2 separate regions of the Homo sapiens genome follow, and region 2 is linked to region 1. Evidence: fine-mapped expression QTL. Tissue or cell type: unexposed skin. Region 1 holds a variant in brackets; the other region holds the start of a gene. All regions are shown on one strand. Distances are between the middles of the regions.

Evidence for each region. PIP is the estimated chance that this variant, and not a neighbour inherited with it, causes the effect.
Region 2: it holds the start of CCDC183-AS1, and the variant in region 1 is fine-mapped to the expression of CCDC183-AS1 in unexposed skin (GTEx, PIP 0.95).

What each region holds. Positions count from the first base shown.
Region 1 is chr9:136,848,912-136,851,411 of GRCh38, forward strand. PHPT1 (phosphohistidine phosphatase 1) reads left to right here and starts at 498. Exons shown (of 3, transcript NM_014172.6): 1 at 498-679; 2 at 1,102-1,226; 3 at 1,844-2,113. The coding sequence starts at 520. The coding sequence ends at 1,936. RefSeq lists silencers at 30-109, 290-349, 740-819 and an enhancer at 470-749. The variant G/T (reference allele first, on the strand shown) is at 1,309.
Region 2 is chr9:136,807,360-136,809,859 of GRCh38, forward strand. It overlaps CCDC183-AS1 (CCDC183 antisense RNA 1), which reads right to left and starts at 1,489. Exons shown (of 5, transcript NR_024580.1): 1 at 1,368-1,489. It overlaps CCDC183 (coiled-coil domain containing 183), which reads left to right. Exons shown (of 14, transcript NM_001039374.5): 14 at 213-382. The coding sequence ends at 331. It overlaps RABL6 (RAB, member RAS oncogene family like 6), which reads left to right and starts at 589. Exons shown (of 15, transcript NM_024718.5): 1 at 589-967. The coding sequence starts at 838. It also overlaps the pseudogene LOC100422233. RefSeq lists enhancers at 1-128, 129-725 and silencers at 1-230, 431-600, 651-710, 731-860, 871-1,400.

The DNA.
Region 1 (2,500 bases):
GTCCTTCGGGCGGTGGAGGGGGTGGAGAGCGAGGCCTTCGGGCGGTGGAGAGCGGGGAGGGGGGAGGCCTTCGGGCGGTGGGAGGGGGAGAGAGGGAGGCCTTTGGGCGGTGGGGGCCACGGGGAGGGTGGTCTTCGGACTACGTGCGGGACAGGAGGTCAGGGCTGGCAAGTCCCTCAGGCCTCCCTCGTTGCCCCAGCCTCGCGGGCCGCCTAACTGCCCCGTTCCAAGGGTGCCACCGGACCCCGCTGGAGAGGAACTTCTCCGTTGGCTGGATTTCATCACCACCCATTCCCGATTCCACGTTTCCTTTAAGCGGGGCTGGCGGAGCCGCAAGGCGGCAAGGAACTGGATTGCGATTGGTCAGCACGTGCCTCGGTCGGCGGTACAATTGGCTGAGGCGCTGGGCCTTGGGAAGCATTCCCCGACGGGATTGGTCGTCGCTCTCGCAGAGCCCGCCTCCCGCAGTACAAGCGGCCCCCGGGTCGGGTGGGAGGAGGGGACTCCGGGAGGAGGAACATGGCGGTGGCGGACCTCGCTCTCATTCCTGATGTGGACATCGACTCCGACGGCGTCTTCAAGTATGTGCTGATCCGAGTCCACTCGGCTCCCCGCTCCGGGGCTCCGGCTGCAGAGAGCAAGGAGATCGTGCGCGGCTACAAGTGGGCTGAGTACCATGGTGAGGGCGGGACCTGCGGGCATGCCAGGGGCACGCCTGGCGAGGCGGGGGCGGGGCTGGCGGGACGGAGACGGGGCTGACGAGGCAGGGGCGGGGCTGGCGGGGCGGGGGCGGGGCTGCGGGCCGTAGCGGACTGCGCTCTGCTCCGAGTCCTGCCCCTGCTAGGTTTGACCCAGGCTGAGGTCCTGGGCGGGAAGGGCGTGACACGGCCTGACACCCTCCCCAGCAGTCTCCCAGTTCCCGCGCCCTCCCCGGTTCCACCCTCCTTCGCTCATTCATCCCTGTCCCAGCCTCAAGGGGCTTCGTCTCTCCTGGGGAAGGGGCTGTTCAGAGCTGGGATTTCAGACCCCTTCGGCTGGGAGTTCCTCCCGCGGCCTCCAAGGGCGGCCAGGGCACGTCCTGAGGCCGCCCTCCCATCCCAGCGGACATCTACGACAAAGTGTCGGGCGACATGCAGAAGCAAGGCTGCGACTGTGAGTGTCTGGGCGGCGGGCGCATCTCCCACCAGAGTCAGGACAAGAAGATTCACGTGTACGGCTATTCCATGGTGAGCCGCAGCCCCGTCCCGCCCTGCCGGAGGCCCCAGTACCAGCTTCGAGGCCCACCTGAGCCTGCTGCCCTGACCCGTG[G/T]CCCCAGCTGAGCACGCAGGCTTCCTGGGGTTCTCCCAGGGTCGGCGGCAGAGCCCTCCCTCCAGGGCCCATTGTGTTCCTGCATTCCCCCATGGAGCACACGCCAGACCTGAGGGGTGGGACGGACACCCCCAGACATGGCCGGCTGTCTCCTCTCCCTGCCTTGGGAGGCCTTGCTGGGCTCTAGCTGTCCTCCAGCACTTTGGGCCCTGGGCCCCCAGAGGCAGTCAGTACCTGGGTGGAGCTCAGAGTCCCCACCTGTGCTCTTCACAAAAACCACCAGCAGATGAGACCCACGTGCGTCCCTCTGGGCGCCTCAGGCCCCAGGATCCACCATCAAGGTTTGCTTGCCTGTGGAGGTCGCCTCTCCCCAGGGGAGCCCCCAAGGGCGGTCGGGATGGTGGGTTTGGCATCCCCAGGCACTGCCTATCCCTTTCCCACACTCGCTTCTGGTGTGGCTGGTGGCTGGATGCCCAGAGCCGGGTATCGGGTTGAAGGGTCCAGGTAGTGCCAGCAGGCGTCTTCTCTTCTCCAGGCCTATGGTCCTGCCCAGCACGCCATTTCAACTGAGAAAATCAAAGCCAAGTACCCCGACTACGAGGTCACCTGGGCTAACGACGGCTACTGAGCACTCCCAGCCCGGGGCCTGCTGCCTCCAGCAGCCACTTCAGAGCCCCCGCCTTTGCCTGCACTCCTCTTGCAGGGCTGGCCCTGCCTGCTCCTGCGGCAGCCTCTGGTGACGTGCTGTCCACCAGGCCTTGGAGACAGGCTAGCCTGGCCACAGAATTAAACGTGTTGCCACACCTGCCGGCTTCTGAACTCTGTCCTTGGCTTCCTGCACCCTGCGTCACCACCTCCGGGGGCCCCCAGACCCTAACTAAAGCAGGTGGGTGGGGGAACACAGGAGTGGCCCCAGGGAGTGGCGGTGCACACTCAGCCCTTTGGGGTCTGATAAAGGGGCCCGCTGATGGCCTGACTGCTCTTCCCACGGCCATCGTCCTCCAGGGCATCTTGGAGGAGGTCTGGCAAGCCCTTGCGAGAGGAGTCAGGGCCTGGTCCCTCGGGCTGGCCAAGACCTGGGGCGCCCACCAGTGCTCCCTCCTATGAGCCCATCCCAGGGCTCCCCAGTGTCCTGTCTGCCCTGAGGCTCCTTCCGTGACCTGCAGGCTCCTTCCATGACCAGCCCCATGGG
Region 2 (2,500 bases), 42 kb before region 1:
CCGGAGCTTCCACTGGGGGTTCTGCGGGAAAGGCTAGGCAGGGCAGCGTGAGCCGCTGCGAATGGGCTGGGCTGAGTCCTCCCGGCACGCTGGGGCTGTCCCTGGGGCAAGGCACCTGGCCCGGGTCGGTGGAGGGCGGGGGCGAGAGGCGGGTCGGGCGGCTGCGCCTAGCTGGGCTAGCCCCGTGTGCGAGCCGCCGCCTCCGCCCGCAGACACCTTCCAGTTCCCCGACATGGACCACAGCTACGTCCCTTCGCGCGCCGAGATCAAGAGGCAGGCGCAGCGGCTAATCGAGGGGAAGCTCAAGGCGGCCAAGAAAAAGAAGAAGTAGCCCCGCCGCCCCGCTCCCTGCTTTGCTACACAAATAAACATTTTTCCAGGACTGCTGCGGACGCTGGGGCGACCGGGGTCTCGGAGAGGAGCACGGGACACGCAGGATCGGGGGAGGTTCTGCGTAAGGAGGCAGCCCGGGCCCGGAACTGCGCGCCAGAACCGCGTGCGCATGCGCCGACCGCGCGCGCCGCGCCCCCGCGGCCCTCGCGGCGCCCCGTAGCCGCGCACCCCTCCCGTCCCGCCGAGCCGGCGCCAAGATGGCGGCGCTGACTCCTGGAGAGCGGTCGCGCCGGAGGCCGCGGGGGCCGGAGCGGAGCAGCCGCGGCTGAGGTTCCCGAGTCGCCGCTCGGGGCTGCGCTCCGCCGCCGGGACCCCGGCCTCTGGCCGCGCCGGCTCCGGCCTCCGGGGGGGCCGGGGCCGCCGGGACATGGTGCCAGTCGCACCCCTTCCCCGCCGCCGCTGAGCTCGCCGGCCGCGCCCGGGCTGGGACGTCCGAGCGGGAAGATGTTTTCCGCCCTGAAGAAGCTGGTGGGGTCGGACCAGGCCCCGGGCCGGGACAAGAACATCCCCGCCGGGCTGCAGTCCATGAACCAGGCGTTGCAGAGGCGCTTCGCCAAGGGGGTGCAGTACAACAGTGAGTGCGGCGGGCCGGGGGGGCGCGGGAGCGCCGCGCGGGTCTCCGAACCCAGGCCCCGGGCGCCGCGCGGTGGTGGGTGTCGGTCTCACCTGCTTGCCGGTTGTGGGGTGCGCTGGGCCCGCCGGGCGCTCCGGGAGCGGGGGCGCGGGCCAGGGGACGCGAGGAGAGGCCAGGCCAGGGCCGGGTCCTCGCGGCCCCCGAGCCGCGGGTCGTTTCCCAGCCGCACTCGCCTGCCGCGTGTCGCTCCCGCCGCGCTGTGCAGTGGAGCGGGTCGGCGGCGGCGGGGTTGGCCCGGCTGCCCGGCCCGGGGGTGATTACATAATGCCAAGCAGGGCCCGCCGGCCCGGGGCGCCGCGCCCCCGACGCTCCACGGTGCCCAGCCCCGGGCACCACTCACCTGCAGGAGGTGCGGGGAACCCAGCCGGCCTTGGCGCTTTCAGCGGGATTTTTCTTTGTTGACTTCCTACTGAGTTTGAAGACAGAATATTAGCTACGCCACACATTCTCGCCTTTTTTTTTAAAAGAAGCGTTTGTAAGAGACGTATCTAGAAAAGCTCCAGAAGGCACGGGCTGACTTGCGACTGTAGGAGACATCCCATTTCTCGTAGGAAGGAGGAGTCATTTACGGACTCCTGAGTGCCTGGGACGCTCCATTCCTTTGTTATAAATTGTGTAAATTGTCCTCGACCTCTTATGAGTTTTTCCATCTTGCGGGCTCTTTCCCAGTAGTTTTTGAAAGCTTTTATGTGGTTCCCTGTTTTGACATTGCTTCCCTCTTAGCCATTTCCGTATGTTTCTATGAGGTTTTAGGACGCTACGCCTATCCAGTTTTTTGGTCACTTTAAGGGGAGCCTTAGAGCCTCCGTGATATTTCCATGGTAATGTAGAATTTTAAGAACTAATGATCAGAAAGACTCTTGTGCAGGTTTAAAAGCAAGTTCATGAATTCGCGTGCCGTGTGCACGGAGAGAGGCCGTAGTTCCTGGGGCTGGAGCTAGTCCAGGAGGACAGTGAAGATGTCGCCTTCCTTAGTCCCCCGGCCTGTGAGCAAGAGGAAGCTGCAGACCACTCGGGCCACCCTCACCCAGACACCTTTAGCAGTAAGCAAGATAAAACAACTTCTTAAAGATAAGTCTGAGCATCTAGGTATGAAAGTTGGTGTCCGGGCCGGGCACGGTGGCTCATGCCTGTAATCCCAGCACTTTGGGAGGCCAAGGCGGGCAGATCACGAGGTCAGGAATTCGAGACCAGCCTGGCCAACATAGTGAAACACCGTCTCTACTAAAAATACGAAAAAAAAATTTAAAAGAAAGTTGATGTCCGAACCAAGGGCCGTATTGGCTTTTCTTATACTCTAGAACATACGACGACAAAGAAGATTTTGATGAAGTTCAAATTAGAGTCAGCGTGCTCATCAGAAAGAAAGCGCAGCCAACACGTTTAGGAACAGAAACGGATTATGTTGAAGACAAACAATCCATTGCGTTTGTGTTCAGTAACCCAAGCATCAAAGGAACTTGTGGCTGGGGA